4 separate regions of the Homo sapiens genome follow, and all the other regions are linked to region 1. Evidence: fine-mapped expression QTL. A gene starts in region 1. Each other region holds a variant in brackets. All regions are shown on one strand. Distances are between the middles of the regions.

Evidence for each region. PIP is the estimated chance that this variant, and not a neighbour inherited with it, causes the effect.
Region 2: its variant is fine-mapped to the expression of ANKK1 in tibial artery (GTEx, PIP 0.94).
Region 3: its variant is fine-mapped to the expression of ANKK1 in whole blood (TOPMed, PIP above 0.99).
Region 4: its variant is fine-mapped to the expression of ANKK1 in prefrontal cortex (BrainSeq, PIP 0.95).

Annotation. Positions count from the first base shown.
Region 1 is chr11:113,384,690-113,389,844 of GRCh38, forward strand. ANKK1 (ankyrin repeat and kinase domain containing 1) reads left to right here and starts at 3,090. Exons shown (of 8, transcript NM_178510.2): 1 at 3,090-3,380. The coding sequence starts at 3,196.
Region 2 is chr11:113,430,434-113,435,588 of GRCh38, forward strand. All of the region lies in intron 1 of DRD2 (dopamine receptor D2), which reads right to left. Among named protein-coding and RNA genes, the nearest start is that of MIR4301, 17 kb to the right of the region's middle. The variant TC/T (reference allele first, on the strand shown) is at 2,283.
Region 3 is chr11:113,319,526-113,324,680 of GRCh38, forward strand. It overlaps TTC12 (tetratricopeptide repeat domain 12), which reads left to right. Exons shown (of 22, transcript NM_017868.4): 3 at 3,763-3,926; 4 at 4,469-4,490; 5 at 5,080-5,155. Among named protein-coding and RNA genes, the nearest start is that of TTC12, 7.5 kb to the left of the region's middle. The variant C/T (reference allele first, on the strand shown) is at 2,550.
Region 4 is chr11:113,289,667-113,294,797 of GRCh38, forward strand. The region is part of intron 1 of TTC12-DT (TTC12 divergent transcript); the gene reads right to left. Among named protein-coding and RNA genes, the nearest start is that of NCAM1-AS1, 18 kb to the left of the region's middle. The variant T/C (reference allele first, on the strand shown) is at 2,482.

The DNA.
Region 1 (5,155 bases):
CTGGGAGTCCTGCTTCCTGAACAGATGTTCCACTTTCCTGCATACATTCCTTTATCCTGACCAACCTCAGTACACAAGCTACCAGAGGCTGGGGCCTGCCAGAACCTGTCCAGGGTTCTCCGTGACATGTTTGCAGGGTGGAGAACAGGGGCAGACTGGGAAACTTCCCTATATGCAAATAGCTTGTCATTCCGGTTTGGGGAAAGGCTCACATCAGATTTCAGCATCTTCTAAAGTATTGCAGAGCTCCTGTACCAGCTCACTTGTCTGGGAGGAGCAGGCTAAAAATCTTAGGTTCCCCAAAGACAATCACACATACACACAAAATTCATTTAATAACTCCAAATCCAGAACACTTCCATCTTCAATCTGCCCAAACAAAATGCACTGATAGAGGTTAGTTGGAAGGACTCAGAGCATTTTGGGGTAAAACTTCTATAGCTAGAACCTGTTCCTTGCCCCTTCTGGTGGGTGGGGGTCATAATTGGACTATAACCACTTCATTATCCATTCCCATTTGTAGGTAGATATGGGTAAAGGTAGAGTTTCCCTCCCAACCCCCCAGCTCTCTCCCCTCCACACACTGGCTGCTGACTTCCCAACCAGCCAGGACCTAGGGACTTCTGCACTCAGACCACTGGAAAGAAACCAGCAGCCTCTGAGTTGACTTTACTCTTTTGCAAATCCCTATACCTCACCCCACTTTTAATGAGAGATCCAGGAGTTCTTTGCCTCTGTGACCTTATACTCAGAAAGGGTCCCTCCACTTACAACTTCTCCCAGAGCTTATCCAAAGACTACTAGGCCTTTGCCCTAGCCCATGTTAGACAGCTGTAAGGAGCAGGACAAGCCCAGTCAAATGATCCAGTCCCTCTGGGTCAATGAATGTATCTATTTTGACTGACTCCTCAGAAGCCTCAGGGGTGCTTGAACCCACAGCAGAGAGTTTCAACAGGTGGGTCAGCAGTAATACGCCCTGACCCTGCAGTTCCTCCACCTCCACCCCTGTGAGAAATTCAGAGGTATTTTGTTCGGGATTCTGGCAACATGCCTTGAGCCCTGGGTGTCCCCTCTTCTAGGAATGATGCTTTCTTCAGTATTCCTGTGACAGTCTCTGCAGGCAGACAATGGCAGCTTCTGGTTACTTCCTCTCCCTGGAGAGCCACTTCAGGTATAAGTGGATCAAGGGGAACTGCTGAAATGACTCAGGCCATTCACCCTTGGTATTTCCTCCAGGAGCTGAGATAGGTCTCGCTGAATGTCAAAGATCGGGCCTCAGTCAAACTTCCGCAGAGCTGGGTGGCTGGTCACCTTCCCAGTCTCCATGTTCACCCTCCCAGTAGAAGGTATGAAACATCCTCTTGACCTCCTGGTCTCCCTGATGACAATGTCCTTTATCACCTTCCAAACTTCTCTGGCAGAGGCTTTAAACTTGGGCAGGCAGGGCTACTCCAGAGACAATGGGTTCTGTTATGCCCTGTCTTGCTCCAGCCAAAGCAAGCTGGGGGCCTCCCTCTGACATATGTTTGGGGGATACGTCCTGCTCCTGATGCAGTTTCCATCATCTCCACCCTCTTCCAGGGAGCATGACTCTCTCTCTTCCTTTTTTGTATTCATAAAAGGCTACTCCCTGATCCTCCCCTGGCCAACCATTTCCATAGAAACTAAGAGACTTGAGTTTGAATATCAACTACCACTTACTAGCTATGTGTCCATTGATTACTTATTGTCTTGAAGCCAGTTTCCTCATCTGTGAATAGAAGATGTTGACCTCATAACATTGTTGCAAGATAAACAGGATAATATATGTAAAGCAATGCAGTAACTGAAATAGTCACTGATCCTGGAACAAAGTGAGTGTTCAATTAGTAGTGGCTATCACTAGTTTCTATGACAACTGTCTCCAGGCCCAATCTTTGATCCTTAATCTGCTTGCCAGAATTCATCCTGGAAGTTGCAGGTAAGTTGTTACAGAGGGAGCAAGTTCTCCAGCTTCCACAGGGAGTCTCTGTTTGCCTATCATGCCTACACTGTTCCCTGGGAGTCTGGTGGGCTTGTGGCATGGACGAGGGGCTCTGCAGGTTTGGGCTGAAGGCAAGGCACTTCCTTGTCTGGTAGGTAGGCTCCTCAAACCTAACAGTGATCACTCTGAGGGCTCCTTGTGGACTTACTCAGCTGTAGGCAAATAGTGGCTGACTCTGCACTCCGTGGCCACAGTTCCTCCAGGTATGCCTGTCTCTGGGCAATGGCCCACTTGGTCAGTGCCCCTGGGGAGACCTGTCTGTTCAAGCACTTGTCATTTTCCCTGCTCTGAGGGTCTCCAAGGTGAGAGGGCAATCCCATGGACCCAGGACCCAGGGGAACCTCCAAGCTCAGCACTGGTCAGGCTCCAGCTAGAGCCTCCTCTCATCCCTGGCAACAAACTGCCCCTAGTAACTGCGCCAAGGAGGCCACCTCCCCCGTGGCCACCCCGAGGCTGGGGTCCATCCCTCTGAGGTTGGATAGAGCGCAGCCCAGGAAGGGAGTCCCCTGCAGACAGGAGCCCAGCCTCCCCCGCAACTCTGTCCCTGCTGACCCCTCCTTGGTAACCTATAGCACACCAAGGCTGGCTAACAAACAAACAAACAAAACCCCAACAAGAACAAAGGAAACATGAAACCAGTCAGACCAACAGATTCAGACCAGAAAATCCCCATTAAAATTGTTTGAGCCCCATACTTGCTGGATAGGGGCAGGGGTCCAGGCCTGAATCCTTCATAAACCATAAAACCTTGAATGCACTGAAGGAATGCATAAACCGATTTCACTTAGCGCTGGGCCTAAATAAACTGGATCCAACTTCTCAGGCTGGACTTCTTCCAGCTTCGGGACACCTTCTCCCAGCATCCCTCCCTAGGGGGAACTGGGGAAAATCAAAGGCTGAGACAGGGGAAATGCGAGGGCTTCGGAGGGACATACCCTCTTCCCCAGGCCCAGGTCGCTCCATCCCTGCTGGGGCCTCAGGGCTCATGTCTGGGATTTCCCCACCTTTGCGGGGCAGGAGCGGCTCCTCTTGGGCGGGGAAGGAGGCAGGGCCGGCTCGTCTCCCCATTCCCCTCTCCCGGACCCGAGGAGCAGGAAGCGGCGGCTCCTTCGGCCACCCAGGCAGCAGCCACAGCGGGGAGTGCGCGGCGCGGGGACAGGAAGAGAGGGGCAATGGCTGCCGACCCCACCGAGCTGCGGCTGGGCAGCCTCCCCGTCTTCACCCGCGACGACTTCGAGGGCGACTGGCGCCTAGTGGCCAGCGGCGGCTTCAGCCAGGTGTTCCAGGCGCGGCACAGGCGCTGGCGGACGGAGTACGCCATCAAGTGCGCCCCCTGCCTTCCACCCGACGCCGCCAGGTACTGCCAGCCTCGCCCTCCCCTTTCTCGGAGGAGAAACTGAGGCCCGGCAAGCTTTGGGCCCAGGGAGCTTGCGAGGAAGGAGTGGGCTGAGTTTGGGGCTGAGGACTGTCCCCCGCGGTATTTCTGAATTCCACCCAGTAGCCTGAGCCTCCCAGGCACACCCATACCTGTCTCCCTAACCAAAATAGAGTTGGCACATAATACCTGTTTGTAGACTCAACAGAGGTCAAAGGCAAGCGGGAACTACCTACCAAAGACGCCTTTATCCCATCTGACCTTCCGAACTTGTCCTGCCTGCTTCCATCCTTCTCTCCAGCGCCTTCTTCCCCCGGTGTCCTGTGGCAATAACTGCTCTTGACCGCTCTCTGCCATCCTCCTACCCACCCCAGCTCTCAGGGCAGGGCTGAGCATCCTGGGAGGCTGTGGCACTTTGCTCAGATCTGCAGGGAATCATGTTCTCTCTTCCCACGGTGGCGGGAGGGAGGAGGCCCCTCCCAATCAGTGCAGGCTGAGGAGGTCAGGGGATGGAGACTGCCCGGCCTGATGGCCTGTCCAGGCCCTTGGAGGGTCAAGTCTGGAGTTCTCTCATCTCTGTTTTTGTTTTTGTCCCTTGCTGTCATGCGCACTACAGCGACGCCTTGACATGCCCCTATTTTTCTCTTCCTACCTCTTTCCTACGTTTCCATTATTCTCTGTCTTCCCACTGATTTGGAATCCAGTCTCATTCCCACTGGAGTTGCATATACTAGCTGTGTGCTTGCACCTTGCAGCCATGAAGAAGACACTCGGGATGTTAAACCTGAGCATGATAACCATGTCCTCCTCCCAAGGCTCTGGGACATCAATTAGAGAGTCCGGGACGGGGGTCTCTCTGACTGGCATCTGGCTTGGATGCTATCTGTGGTTCTCTAGGATTACCATGCAAACTCTTAAGATACAGCCTCAGGTGCCACACACTCAGTTCCCAGGCCTTCCCCCACCTTATGAGGAGAGGAAAAATAAGATCGCCTAAGGCCCACTCACCTTCCTCCCTCAACATCTGCCTGTTGGTTTTGGAGGAGGGTCAGAGTATGCTAGGATTTGTCTAAATCATTTATAGCCTTTTGAATATAGAACGAAAGGAAACAGATGGCAGTGACATGATTACACTGTGAGACATTGATGCTAACTCCTGCCACTTTCCCTTCCCAAGTTCTGGGAATTCCCTGGGTGGAGGGGGTAAGATAATTAATGGTAATTAAGACTTAGTATGTATGGATTACTATACTAGGAGCTTTACGTGCATTACTTTACTAGATCCTCTTTCCAGCTATTCATTCATTCATCCACTTGACAAATGCTTACTGCTCTTCTACTATGTGTCAGGCACTGTTCTACACCCTGGGATTAACGATGAATGCAACAGATGTGTCCTTTCTCTCCGGGAGATTGCAGCCTAGGGGGAGGAAGACATTAACCAGATAACCCCACATGTAAATGTAAATGTGCTACTGTGAGAAGCTTAAGAAGGGGAGATTTGTGGCTCTAGGAGAGCTCATTAACAGAAAGTTTGACTGATATCAGAAAAGGCTTCCTTGAAGAAGTTACACTACAGCTGAAATGTGAAGAATGAGTATAAGTTAAGTAGGTGAGGAGGAGAAAGTTTTCCAAGAACAGACAACAGAGTGTGCAAAGAATCTGTGGCAAGAGGGGCATGGTAAGTACAAAGATGGGAAAAGGCCATGATGGCTGGAGTTGGGAGAGTAAAAGAGCAGTGGAAAACCACTGAGCAT
Region 2 (5,155 bases), 46 kb after region 1:
TGCATTCTGATTTCAGAGACATTAAAATGGTGGGGGCAGGGGGAAGTGCATTGTAGAGTGGATAGCAATACAGGGCCTTCCCAGCATTTCTAAGCTGGTATTTTCTCAAGGGGCCTGAGAAAACCTGCTGGTCCCCAGGCTTCCCTGCTGCAGCTCCAGCCCATCCCTCCCTTTTGTCCTTCTGTCTCCGGGCTGCACAGATTGTTGGGCTCCAAGGGGCATCCCAAAAGAATACACAAGTGAGTAGCTTCTCCATCCTGGCTGGAGCTTGTGTTCATGGTAGCGGAGTGAGGAAAGGTTCTCAGTGCTGCTCCAGTTACGCTGGGCTGGTTCTGGCTCCAAAGAAGCCTGGTGAGTTCTTTGTCCACTCTGGAGCTTGTTGAGGGAAAATGCAAAGCCACATAACACATGGCACCTTGTATTTGCCATGATGGTCCCAATTTCTTGTTCTTTTTTTAAAATGGAGATTGGCTAAATATATAACCCAAGGTGCATTATTCTTACATGAGAAATTTTTTTGAGACAAATAAAGTGGCACAGTATATTTAAAAATCTATTGTTATCAAAACAAGCATTTTGATTTTTGATTGTGAAAATATGATCAACTTGCTCACCACCCTCCAAATGTCATCTCCATCTTTCTCCCAGGTGGCCCCTGGGCATGCATAAAAGCTTACAAAACTCCAAATCACAATCCCCAGTCAACAAGAACTTAGTGAGCACCAAATACATGCATGGACACTGTTATTTTCCAGCTGTTACAGGTTGAGCTACTTGACAGTGTTTCCTGGGTGGAGGATGAACAATCTAATCCTGTAGCTGCCAGGCCTCACTCCAGGGGTGGCTGCCTCTCCCCTAAGGCACCTTTCTGTGCAGGAAAGTGGGGGTAATTGCTGCTCCTCATTCCACCCTCACCATGCAGATGCTTGCAGACAAGGTTCCATGGGTCCTCTGAGGCCTCCTAGGCTTTTCTTTCTCAGCTGCCCTGGTGGAAGCCAGGAGAAAGAGAAGACTGCATTTGTGTGGTGACCTGCAAGCTACTGGTCATCAAAGAGCCAAAGATCTCCTCATCTGTCTCCAGGACTCTTTGCTCTGCCCTAGCTCAGAAGGGCAAAGATCTACAGAAATATCTTTCAGAGTCATCCATTCTAGTGCTCAGGACCCCTGCCTGTCAAGTTCTTCCTAACATCTAGCCTAACTCCAGCCTTCTATAATAGTGGCTCTCTTCAGAAGCTTCAGAGTGGAACTTCCCCAATCAGAGGTCTAGAATGCATCAAGGTGCATAGAAATATTAGGTCAGTTGGGATGTAGAGGCAGGCACTTCCAACCTCAGCAGCTTCTGCTATTCACCCTATATGCCTTACAAATGCTACTATTTTCTGTGCGTGCCCTAATTTGGAAATTAGCTAGCTCTCAAGTTGAGAAGTACTGGAAGAGCCCAGATACCCGGGGCTAAGCTAGCCCACCCAGGCTGCCCCAGGCAGGCCACCCTGCTCAGGCCACCCACTGCACTGCCCCCCAGGAGTAGAGGAGGGGACAGGGAGTGGGCAGGCCTTCTGGGGTATAGATGAGGTATGGAAGGGGCTGCTTTCCCAGTCACGCCCCAAAACTGGCAGGCGCCCCAACCTATAAAGTGTATTGGAAGGGAAAAAAGCTCCTTTAAGGCTCAGCAGTTTGAGGCTGACACCCAAACCTGACATTTTCTCTCAGGAGAAACTTGGAAGGTGTAGCAACACTTAGTCCCCAGGCTGATGGAGTGGGGTGAAAAGGGTCAATCTGTTAGGACAGCCTGGGATCCAGGAAGAAAGCTGGCAGGTCCTGGGAGAACAGAGAGGATTTTCTCTGATCCTCTCTTTCTCTCTCTCTCTCTCTCTCTCTCTCTCTCTCTCTCTCCCTCCCTCTATCCCCACCACCTCATTTCTATTTCATCTGGGGCACAGAGCTAGAAAGGTGGGGGACAGAAGCCCTGGATGCAGCATAAACCCCAGCAACGTGTTTCCTATGCTTCCGTCTCAGCTTAAGTCTTGGTGCTGCCTTCCCTGAAAGTTCGGCACTTGAAGGAATCAAATTGTCTAATTAAAATTTAACAATTCCTTATCAGGCTTGATGGCGGGTGAGACACTCCTGTCTTAAACACATCATTTTTTCCTCTTTTCTGAGATGCAAAGCATTTCAATGAAAAAGTAGAGGGGGAGAAGAAAGCATTTTGTATTTGCATCTCAAAAGCAGCCTACTGGAGTGACTTGAGTTGGATAGGAATTGGGAGTGAGTGGGTAAGAGGT[TC/T]CTTTCCAGGACCCTGGCGATATAGGCCACCTGCCCCTACCCCTCCAGGCAAAGGCCAGGCTCTCACTTGGGGTTGGACCTTCTTTTAGCATCTCTTGCAACTTCAAAAAGGCAGCATGGAAATGGAAGAGGGAGGAAAGGTGGTGCGCCCGTTCCTTCCCACATCCAAGGGAAAAGGAGAGAGTTACTGAATAACACTTTTATGTTCTCTGGCCGAGGAGGCAACCTCAGCAGATGGCAGAGGAAATGGAGACCTCATTCCCAAAGCCCTAGGCCAGGCGGCTGCAGACCTTGGGTTGCCGAGGGTGGGAGTGGGTAGATGGACAGGCACAGTCACTGTCTGGAGGGCAAAGCCTCTAAGCCCTGGAGCTGGGGTGTGGAGGGTCTGTGGCGAGGAAAAAAAGGAGGGGGAGGAGAAACAGAAAGGACTGTGGGGACAAAGAGGAACCTGGAGCAATGGACGATGGCAACCTCCTGGGCTCACTGGGAACGGTTTTTCCTGCATCCCAGGCCCGAGTGCACAGGGGAGTGGGGTGTGAGGCTGTGGGTCTGGCCCCGGTGTCAGCAGTCACTCCTGAGGGAAGAAATGCAGATTGCTCTTTCCCTGTTAAGGGGAAGGGCTCCTCCTTCTTGAGCCCCTGGACTCCCCCACAAACCACAGCCTCAGCACTACTGTGGGGGAACAGGTCTGGACTAGAGACCTAGGCTGGGGGATACCCGTTAGTGGAAGCCCAGGGAGTGGCCTGGACTACCATTTGGGGGTGGCAGAGGCTGCTGTGGGAGACAGGGGGAGGCCACACACTAATACCCCATTTGCCCCTTCTCCCCCGGCATGGGGAGCCTCCCTGGAACCTGGAGTTCTTCAGAGGCAGCGAGGCAGCAGAGCTCAGGGACCGCGCAGCAGCTCTTGGCTATGTTATCTGCAGGGAACATTGTCTAGGTTTCTTTAGAAGGCGTGGAACAGCCTGGATGAATCTCTCCACTGGTGGTCTCTGGCTGTGTCTGGCCCTATGCAGCTGGAGCCAGAGAGTGGCTACAATCTCGAGGGCCTTCTGTGGCCCAGCTTGAGGTTGGCAACCCGGGTCGCCTGCTCCAAGCTTCTCCCCCTGCTCCCTGGAATTAAACCTGGCCAGCAGTTCCCAGTCTTACCTCCCACCTCACAGTAAAAATAGAAGCTAGCCTTCGGCACTTTCTCAATTTCCTGTCACCAAATCCATAAACTTACAGGCACAGGCAGCCACATGCACCCTCCTTGAGTCCCAACTCCTAACCCTAAGCCCCTTCCTGCCACTTGGGCTCAGCATAGCACACCCTGGCTGGCCTCCTCCTCCTTCTCACCCTTCAGGACTATCTTTCCAGCCCCTTCTCCAAGGAAGCCTTCCTGCCACTCCAGCTCAGAGCCCGTCTTCTCACTTAATGCTTTCACAACACGTGTGCTCCTCGGTGACACCCAGCACAGGTGTAATGAAGTCAGTATTTGTCTAGAGATTTGTTTGATGTCTGTTCTTCTTGCTAAACTGTGTGCAAGGCTCACATGTGTCTTGTCTCTCCTGGTCTTCTCCCTCCCCAGCACAGCCTTGGCAATAGCACATGCTCCACACGTTTGAGAGACGTCCATGGAGATAGCATCTCATTCAAGGGTGAAGGGGCCAGTCCCTAGGTCTTTTCCTACCCTGCAGTCATTTCTCCTCCCAGATCCTTCGTGAAGGGTACAATAGCCTCTTCTGAGATCTCCTGTTGACCCTCTGGGTCCCAGTCACAGTGGTAGCTGGGGTTGGGTGCCCAGCTGGTTCGGGTCCTTGCAGGGTGTTTCCCAGGTGGGCATCACTGTGGCACAAAGGTGTTATAAGGCATTGGAAAAAGAAGAAGAGGCACACAGATGAAAGTGAGTGTGGGGATGTGGGGAGGTGGGGAGAGGTCATAGCCAACACACAGTCTGTGGAAAGAAAAGCACAGAGCTGGTAGAGATGGCTTCTGGGCTTCTGGAAGGCCCAGGGCTTCAGAGTGTCCAGGTTGGCAGCACCCTGTGGGAGGGAAGTCACAGCAGGCCAAGGGAGCCATCCCCCCCCATCAGCACCAGCCAGAGACTACCAAGCATCCACAGTGAGTGAGCTGAGTGCAGCTGAGACTCAGTTCTCTATGGAGCACAAGGGTGGGGTGGGGGTGTCCCCAGGGGGAGGCTGGAGCACGCACAGTTCCTTGCCCAGCTATCGAAAGGGCCCCTGTGTGAGACTTTGTCTAGGAGCAGAGGAGACCACAGCTGAGCATGACCAGGCCTCCCCTTCTCCAGGGCTCTCATCCCAGACAACCCCGCTCTCTGCTTCTTCCCAAGGTGGCCAGGTGGCCCTGGGCCTGCTCAGGTGTCCCTGGGAGTGTGGCATCTCTGAGAGGCCTGAGCAGCAGCAGAATTTGAGTCTTCCCAGCCTTACCTTGTTGCAGGCCTCCAGGGTCTGCAGCGGGGTGAGGCAGGGTCTGGGAGATGCAGTGAATGCAGGAAGGGGTGTCTGCCTGACAGCCCCATCCCTGCAGATTTTGATGGCTCCGTAAAAATGTCTCCTCATAAACTGTCAAAGTGTCACAAATTAATTAACTGTTAGCTAGAGTGACTCAGTGTGGGGGGGGGTGGGGGAGAATGGCTCAGTGATGCTGAGCGGGGTGGTGGCGGTGCTGTTCTCTGCGTGTGCTGCCTTTTGATTAAAAATCCTCACCGCTCCGATACTGTGTGAGGGAAGGGGCAGATCCCTGGGGCAGCTCACGTGCACTGCAGAAGACTGGTGGGTGGGAGGCAGGTGGAGGTGTGGGGCTGGGGCCCCCTCCCTGAGAAGGGAACACAGTGGGGAGAATGAAGCCTCTAGAAATTGCCCAGGAGATC
Region 3 (5,155 bases), 65 kb before region 1:
TTTGGTAAAAATGTCAATTTTTAAAATATTCTATGCAGTAAATACAATTTAGATCAAAACCCGCAAAGTAGTATGTACTAAAATTCAGCAAGCTGATTCCAAAGTTTACGTGGAAGAGCAAAGGACCAAGAAGAGCCAAGAAAACTCTGCAGGAAAAAAAAAAAAAGCAGGACAACTTTCCCTACCTGACATTCAAGATTTATTATAAAGCCATAGTAATCAATGCATGGAGGTTTTCGTGCTGGAAAGGACAATCAGGGGAAAGGAATGAAGAGCCTGGAGAAGATTTGCACACATAACAGGGATGATGAGACACATTGCTGGCAGGGACTTCTCAACAAATAATGCTCCTGCCCTACGTGAAAGTCAACTCTAGGTGAATTACATACCTTAGTAAGAAAAAAACTTTAAAACTTTTATAAGACACCATAAGAGAGTATATTTATAACCTTACTGACACAAAAGACCTAAATTGTAAAGGAAAAGATGGTATATTTAACACACTAAAATTAAAAAGAAAATCTCTTCAACAACATATTCCATAAAAACAAATGAAAAGACAAAGAATACCCAAGGGGAAGATGTTTGGAAATACATGTAACCAGTCCAGAATATATACAACTGATACGGGTAGGAGATGGGAATAGTGGATAGAAGAGGGTGGTTCCCTGGCAAAGACCCCACCCTCAAGCCGGGAGATCTGCAGCGCTAAGTGGAAACAGGCATTTCTGTTTTCGTGCCCAAAAAGTTGCCTTTTGGCCTGCCATGCTCCCCTATCCTGTGCCCATGTAAACTCTGAACCCCAGGCTCCAGAAGCAGACGAGCAGGTGAGATGAGGACACAAGCAGACAAATGGCAGAACGACACAGTAGAGAAAAGAGGAGGAATGTCTGAACGCCGAGAGGAGTTTGGCTGGGAGCAGCCAGAGGGGAGTTGGGCCACTGGATGGCCAGGCTCCAGGGGAAGATCATCTTTCCCCTCCATTCCCCCTTCCAGCTCCCCATCCATCCCACTGAAAGCCACCTCCACCACTCAGTAAAACCCCACATTCATCCTTTAGTCCTGTGTGTGACCTGATTCTTCCGGGGATGCTGGGCAAGAGCTCGGGATACAAAAAGCTGTCACTTCCCTCTGCCCTTGTGAAAAGGCAGATGTCCGTCAAGCTGGTTAACAATCAAGTCGTCCGCAGATGGCAGGGCTAAAAGGACACGCTGTAACACGTGCCCAACTGGGCTCCTGCACTTGTCCGTCTGCGTTCTCCCCCTCCCCTCAGGGGTTTGAGCAGTGGTGGTGACTAAACAGGCAAGCCACACCCCTGTCGCATGTCCTGCGAGGGGGATCAGAGAACTCCCCTGTTTCACAATCAAATCAACCAGGCATGGTGGTGTGTGCCTGTAGTCTTTGCTACTCAGGAGGCTGAAGCAGGAGGATCGCTTGAGCCCAGGGGTTCAAATCGAGCCTGGACAACATAGCAAGACCATCTCTTAAAAAAAAAAGAATTTTTTAAAAAAGAAATTATATTAACTAATAAGAAAGAGACAATGACCCAATAGAAAATTGGCCAAGGATAGGAGTAGGCTCTTCGTAGAAATCCAAATGGGTGCAAATCAATAAGAAGATGCTCAATTCCAATCAAATTCAGCGAAATGCAAATTAAAACAATGAGATACCATTCCCATCCATTACATTGACAACAATTAAAAAGTTTAACCCAGCAAGTGATGATAAGAATGTAGAAGAATGGGAACTTCCTCTTGTACTCTTTTGTAGGAGTAAAAATTGGTACAGCCATATCCTGAAGGATATGTAACATGTGCACAAGGAAATATGTACATACAGGTATTCAATTCAGCATTTATTTACTTTAGAAAAAACTGAAAAACCACCTGGCTATCAATAAGAGAATGGATTAACTATGGTATATATAATGGTTTAAATGAATCAACTGGAACCATGTGTATCAAGAACACATCTCTAAAGCATCTTAAGAGAAAAAAGTAGGTTGCAAATGAATGCACATTTTATACAACTATTTTAAAAAATTGTTTAAATATTACATACACAAATATTCTGGTAGATTGCAAGAATGGTTACAAATTCCTTTCTTCCCATCAAGAGTGGAGCCTATTTCTCTGCCACTTGAATCTGGGTTGGCCATGTGTGTTGCTTTGGCCAAAAGGATGTTTGCAAACATGACACAAGCAGAGGCTTGAAAAGTGCATTTGAATTAGGGCTTGCACTCATACCACTCATGAGAAAGTAAGACACACTTACCCGGGTTGCTTGCATTTCTCAAGCCAACAGCCAGCAGACTTTCTAAAGCAGAGCCACTTAGATGACTGACAGTTGACCATGGATATATGTGTGAGTCCAGCTGAAACCAGAACTGGCCAGCTGAATTCAGCTCAAATTGTTGACATAGATAATTGTAAACTAAGCCACAAAAATGGTGGTTTGTTTCAAACCACTAAGTTTTGATGTGGTGTGTGATGCAGCAAAATCTAAATGATACAAATACTAAGTATTAAAGCATGCTGGAGAAAAGATAC[C/T]ATCAACTTATAAATGGCATAGAAACAAAAATATTATATTACTTTCGGTATGCTTGAAATATTGTACAATTAAAAATTTATAATTTCCTTGAAGACTCAGTGGGAAATGAAGAAATTAGAACAGGAAAATGAATTAAGAAGTTTAATTGTGAAGGGGAGGAGACAGAGCATTAGGAGAGATTTAAAGTACATAATTTAGAAGGAAGCTGGTCGAATGGAATAGGTTGAAAATATTGCGCAATAGGATTATTAATTGGTGATGCAGCGTTCCTGATTATGCAAAATATGACAATGGAATCCTGGGCCCAGGATGAGGGACTAACCTTACAGAAGAATGGGCACCTTTTCCTGGTAGTAAGGAAGGATGGATGTAGGTATAGGCAGTTTTGTAGTTTTAATAGCAGGAAGTCGATGGCATCTCTTTCCTCTCTGAATTGATAAATAAGGGCATCTTTTTGAGATGGTCAGGTTTAGATTGCAAACTGTTAAAAGTCATTGGGGGAGTGACAGGATATCTTGCCCAGGATAACAAGGATTGCTGGGCATCACTGAAGGTCCAGTTGAGTTTGAGTTTGGACCAGTCCCCCAGGCATCTATCTGTCTCCCTCAGTACATAGCATTCCTAATGCAGACTGGTAGAATTGGGTAATTGGAATTATGTAGAGCTGGAATTTTGTCTGTTAGGTGAGATAGCAGGGCAAGGGAGTTGAGTATATGGGCAGGATGGCTGCTGAGTGATTGACCATGGAATCTAAGCTGGATAAGCAGTAAAGTGAAGACAGGTGAGGATAGGGTTAAGGGCTGCTGTTTTGCGATTTTGAGCTGCCTGTACTTACATGTTTGTCTCCCACACAAGTTCATAAACTCTTCAAAAAAGGATCTTTTTTTATTCATCATTGTTATCTATAGCATCAGCATAATATCTAACTCATAATGAGCTCTCCATAAATTATTGTTGAATTGAATAATGGCTTAAAACTCTGTTCCTTAAAGCTAATAGCTATACTCACCTGCAACTTTTTCTAGGCAAAAAAAAAAAAAAAAAAACCTGTTGTTAATTTTTTCTCATTGGTTCTGCTTGCTCTATTTTGCTTTCTATTGCTCTATTTTTTTCTTTAAGATCTTTCCCATGCATTTTATGCACCATCCTTTCTAGTGAATAGAGTCTTTTGAATATCTTGTTTGATTAAGTCACACCTGATTTCTTCTCTAGCCAATTTAATTCAGGAGATGAATTCTGATGACCCAGTTGTGCAACAGAAAGCTGTCCTGGAGACAGAAAAGAGACTACTGCTTATGGAGGAAGACCAGGAGGAGGATGAATGCAGGACCACCTTGAACAAGACTATGATCAGTCCTCCACAAACTGCTATGAAGGTTTCTTTTTCTATTGAGAAGTTATATAAGTACTTACAGTGAGAAGACCTACACCTAGGCAGTAGTTTAATCTCAAACTGTCCAGCAAGGCTGAAATGGTCTTTTGTTTCTTAGATTTATTTTTTATAAGAAAGTATAAAATTTGATTTTTTTTTTCCTTTGATCTTTCTGGGTTATCTTTAAACAACCCTTTGGATCTATTTTAATGGAAATTTCCCCTCTCCACCCCCTGAGCTTGTGTGATATATTTAAGCTGTACCTTTAAGGTAATGTATTCTAACTCATTTCCAACTCATAAGCCACAGCTGAGGTCCCTTGACCTGGGCAGCCTTGTTTTGCAGACTCGGTCCCATAGCAATTGTGCCCATACTCAGATCTCCTGATTTAAAGCAAGCCCCATGAATTCTGAGCCCTTCAGTTTTGATGGTTAAAAGAAATGACCTCTTGTTTGTAATTGATTTGCCTTCTTGGTTTATATACATATAAATTAGAGTGGTTTTTGAAATTTGTTTCTTTGTTTTTATGGTAACCTACGTCTACAGAGTGCAGAAGAAATAAACTCAGGTAAGGACAGCATCTCTCTTCCCAATTTTCATTCTTTATATAGGACCAGTTTTGATTGATTGTAGCTCCCAGACCCTTAAATTATTGCCTTTGAGCTTACAAACAACCTGTGAACAAAAACCTACTGATCATCCCATTCTGTTACTAGTGATCAGCGGGAATGTCCCTGAGAGGTTTTTCTTTATTTTCTCTTGGTCAACCTTTTGTAAACTCAATTCAGTTATTCTGTATCATCCAATTTACCCTGTTCAAGGGATCCAGATAGTTTCTCTGTTGCTCAGCTCAGAAGCTCATTATGCTAAACGGAACAAAAAAATCTCTCTTCAAAGAAAAACTCTTTTAAAAGACATAATTCAAATTTGAAGCACAGTCATAGCCATCATGTGTAATAATGCATCACACAGATTACCATTTAATGTCAAATGAAGAAAATGTCATTTTAGTTGCCTCAGAATGGTGTGTGTGCGTGTGTGTGCCTGTGTGCATATGCATACGTGTGGCTCTAAAGTAACACTTCGAATTTGAGCTAAAGAACTGATTATAGTATTTGGATTTTTCTTTTTAATATCTGAAATTACCCTGCTGTCAGAGGCCTTCTTGGCATCTGTGGAGAAGGATGCAAAGGAACGAGCCAAGAGAAGAAGGGAAAACAAAGTCTTGGCGGA
Region 4 (5,131 bases), 95 kb before region 1:
CAGAGCTGTGGTATGCAGAGGGGTAGAGTCCCTGAGGCTCTCAGGGGAAACCCAGATGAGCAGCTGGGCCTGGCTGGGAAGGGCACAGTGGGCTAAGACTGCCACCAAGTGGCCGTGCCAAGAACCACAGGAAACCAGGCTTTTCCCCCAACCTGGCCACCCAAATGGAAAGCTGCTGCCTGCCCCTTGGGCCTGAAAATGGAGGCTTCTCCTCCCCTCTGCTCCTGAATTGAGCTGTCCACATCTGCTGAACTCCAAAGGAGATAATGAAATCTAGCATTGATTTGCTATCCTACAGCTTATAAAATGATTCATACAGTAAGAATAATTACATGATAATATTAAGTATTGTTGCAGCAACTTGCATTAATTGAGGGCTTGCTACATGCCAGAAACTTTAAAATATCATCTCTTAATCCTTACAACAAATCTGTAGCAAACAAATGCATTTATCCAGCGGACATCCATTTTCCTTCCTTCTCTTAACAGTACTTCGATTTTTCTCTGGGAATGTTCCTTCCACTCCTAGGACTTTGTGGAAATGACTAGCAAGAAAGAAGCTCTGTTGGAACTCATAGGAAGAGAAGTCTTGAGCTTCCAGGTGCCACCCCAAGGGAAAGCCTGCCTGAGATTGAAACCAACACACAGGAAGCAGAACAGATCTCAGAGGCATTGGAGTCCCATGGACCAGACGTGCCTGAAAAATGCCTGGGTTTTTCAATTCCCTGAACCAATATATTCCCTTTACTGAAGTCAATTTGTGTGGGATTTTTTTTTAACTTAAAATAAAAAAGTACTAATAATTGCTATGTAATTTAAAAAATTAGCATGTGGAAGTAAGCTGTTGTAAGTAGCAGATCCAAAAATAGAGAATCATATGTCAAGGTGAGTGGGGGGGGGGGCATTTATTCATTACCATGTGCCACTCCCTGTTTGCTATAAACTGAATGTTGTTATTTACAGTTCATTTGTCGAACTCCTAACCCCCAATCCTAACCCCTAAGGGATTTTGGGAGGTGACTAGATCATGAGGGTGGATCCCTTGTTTAATGCCCTGATGAAAGAGACCCCAGAGAGCTCCCTCACCCATTCCACCATGTGAGGACACAGTGAGAAGAAGGTCTATGACCCAGGAAGTGGGACCTCACCAGACACCATTTACTAGTGCCTTGATCTTGGACTTCCAGCCTTCCCAACTGTAAGAAATACATTTCCGTTGTTAATAAGCCACCCAGTCTGTGGATTTTAGCCTGAATGGACTAAGGCACTGCTCTAGTGCTAGAGATTCAGTAGGCACCAAAATGGATGTGATCCATGCTCCCGAGTTAACTTCCTGGCGGAGAATGCCACCGTAAACCACTGAGAATGCAGCAGCTCTGCAGAGGCCTGAGCAGAATGATGGGATAGAGTGAGGTCACATGGCTTCTTGAGGTTGCATGGGCAGGGGCCGATGCAATGGGAATGCGCTCATCGACATGTTTGCTAGCAGTCACATTTCCTAGACCCCCTTGTTTGTATGGTTCCAGTTAGAATTAGACAAAGGAAGAACTCATGTGTGATTTGAAGGCAGAAGGACGTGGTGTCCATCATGCTCTTAAGGACTTATAGTCTCCTGCAGTGACAGAGAAATGTGGAGGTGCTCATGAGTCCTGCACACCTTTGCTCTCCTCCACGCAAGTTCAGCTGACCGTCAGCATCCTTCTGACCAAGCTCAACCTCAGGTCTACTGCCAGACATGTGGCCACGGGACACAGAGAGATCATAGCCTCCTATGGACCTGTTTATGAAATTCCCCTTCACACGCACATGGGGTGGCTCATGTGAGGGAGGAAGCAGCAGCCATGGAAAGAGAACAAGTTCAAGATCTGTGTTGGAAGTAGGCTTGGCAGGACTTGCTGGTAGGTTGGATGGAAGATGTGGCTTAAAAGGGGGTCAGGATGTCTCCTAGGCTTTGTCTTAAGCAAGAAAGCAAATGTTTCAGGCCATTTATTGAGATAAGGAGCCTATCTAGGATTGGAAATAAGAGTTCTTCTTTGGCCATTGTGGTAGGTTGAAAAAAAGGACAATATTGTGGTAGATTAGGGAAAAACTGGTCACACACACACATACACAAATGTCTTCAGCAACTCCCAATCATAATCATAAACTTACATTAAAAATGCAAATGCAATGCAAAGATGTTTCTTTTTCTTGAACACTTGAAAGTAAATTTCTGGCCAGATGCTCCAGCACCTGTGAATATTGTACTATTTCTTATAAGCAAGGACCTTCTCTCCCCTACATAATCAAGATCAAAATCAATGTCAAGAAATTAGCATGGGGCCAGGTGCAGTGGCTCACCTCTGTAATCCCAGCACTTTGGGAGGCCGAGGCAGTCAGATCACGAGGTCAGGAGATCGAGACCATCCTGGCTAACATGGTGAAACCCCGTCTCTACTAAAAATACAAAAAAAATTAGCCAGGCATGGTGGCAGGCGCCTG[T/C]AGTCCCAGCTACTCGGGAGGCTGAGGCAGGAGAATGGCGTGAACCCGGGAGGCGGAGCTTGCAGTGAGGCAAGATCGCACCACCACTGCACTCCAGCCTGGGCCACAGACAGACTCCGTCTCAAAAAAAATTAACATGGATACAATACTATTTTTTAACCTGCAGTCCTTATTCAAATTTCTCCAGTTGTTCCTCTGATGATCCTTAAACAAAAGAAAAATAATCTTTGTGTGTTCAACATTCACTCCAGGAACACACCATTTTTTTTAGTTTCATGCCTCTCTAGTCTCCATCAATCTGGAAGATGAGTTCTGTTTTGTTTGTCACGATCTTGACATTTTCGAAGAGTTCAGGCCATTGGTTTTGTAGAATGACCCTCAATTTTAGCTTGTCCAACATTTTCTCACAACGAAATTCAGGTGCTGCTCTTTCACAGGAATGCCATGGAGCTGGTCCTCTCACTCTGGCTTCATCTTACCAAGTGGCACGTGATCTCCATCCTCCTGTGTCTGACGATGCCCACTTGGATCACTTGATTAAGGTGGTGTCTGCCAGGCTTTTTTGCTGTGAAGTCACTCTTTTCCCCTCTTTGTAGTTAAAAAGCATTTGTTCATTGTGGTAGTATTAACATTAATTGAGGGCATGCTATGTGTAGAGGGACTTTAAAACTTTGTAAATATCCCGTGCCCCATCAAACTTTCAATTGATTGTTTATCTATCAGATAAACACTATCAGAAAACCACTAGACTAGACTAGTGATTGTCTAGTTTTCAGTGAATTCTGTTAGCTTCATTATTTATTTTGATGTGCAGATTGTCCCTGATCCGGTCACTCAGTGGGAGCCCATTCCATCTGGTTTCTGGTTTTTACATGACCTAATCATTCTTTGAGCACTTCATTACTTCCTGACACAACAGGATGTTACATTCTCATCTCGTCCTTTCTCTTCTTCAGTCCTGGAAGCAGCCATTTCTTCAGGAAACCTAAGTTTCAAGAGATGCTGGTGTAGTGTACTCATTGCTCCCAGGACTTCTCAGTGGACACATTGGTTTTCTCTGGAGAGCCTTGATACAAATGGGACATGGCAGAACTAGAACCTGAATCAAGACTTATTTTACTCTATGCTCAGAGCTCTTTATTTTTCTCAGTGAAAACTGGCTTAAGAGGAAGAGACACATATGTGTATGGATACATACATGTACCCTATTGTCACAGGATACTAGAAATATGTGGATAACCTCACATCTTTATCCTCTTCCTAAATGGTTCTTCCAAAGTCTGGATGGACAACTGTTTCCCCAGCACAATGAATTCAACCCACCAAAGCTTCTCATTATCCCTTTCTTCATCCCTCCTCCTCCAACTCCTCCCCTCCCCCGCCTTCCTCTGTTGCCTATCACAGAGAAGGGCAGAGCCATCCATTCGCTTCTGTAAGCTGAATAGCTGGCATTGTCATCAGAATCCTTCCTTTCTCTCTCCCCATTTCCAATTTGTCAATGTTTTCTATTGATTTTCTCTACTGAACATCTCTTGTATTCATCTCCTCCTCTCCAACCCGGCAACTGCTGACTTGGTCTCTCAACGCCTCCCATCTGTGCTTTGCAATTGTATGCACTTCCTTGCCCATAGGCAAAGTCCTGGTGGCTGAGCACCAGCCACAACACTAAGAAGTCAGCAAGTGAGAGGTGAGTAAAGGACATACATGTATAGTCTGTGGAGCTGTCTCAACAAGGAATGGCACAATCCAAGGCTACATCGATGCTCTAAGGCAGGGAGGCAGAGAAAAAGGATGGGGGTGTTCAGGCAGTGAGGACCAGTCCAGGGAGACGTAATAGAGGAAGGACTCAAAGCAGAAGGCAAGGCACAGAGCCTGGGGTCATTCCTCTGTCCGTAGCCGGAGAGCCTCCACCTTGTCCGGTTTCTTATCTTTCTGTAGTGCAAATCTGTGACTCACTTGCTTAGAACACATCAGTTGTTTACCTTCACCTGCAGGACAAAATCTCAATCCTTGGAATATCCCCCCTGTCTCCCTCTGTGCCTCACTGAGTGCAACTTCCCCTTGTATTACTCACTCCTATAAGATGGAATTACTGATAGTTTCCTGATGACACTGTGTTCTCTCACCTGTGTGCCTGCACACCTGCTCGTCACTGTGCCCACAGTGCCTTGCTCACCTGGCAAAGTCCTACTTCTCTTCCTTCTCCTATGCTTGTGTCACACACTGCACAATTCTCCACTGAAGCATTCATGCCATCGCATCATAACTGTCTGCAGGTCTTGCAGATTTGCAGGAAAGACCATAAGCTCCTTGAGGCCACTGTCTTCACATTGTCTTGTCATTGTCTTCATGCCCCTGCTCCATCCCCATGCCACTAAGTTGTTGCTCAGTACATTTGTTGAATGGATAAACAAATGAATTCATGAACTAGAAGTTGGGAGGAGAGAGTGGTTTAGGACAAGAAGTTGTAGGGGATTTTCTTTAAACTTTTAATGTGGAAAAATATTAGATTTACAGAAGAGTTGCAAAGATAGTATGAGGAGTTCCTGCATACACTTAACCCAGGTTCTTCTAATGTTACTCCCCTTTGGTTATATCTGATATAGCCAGAGAAGTCTTACCAACTAAAGAATTAGCATTAGTAGAGTGA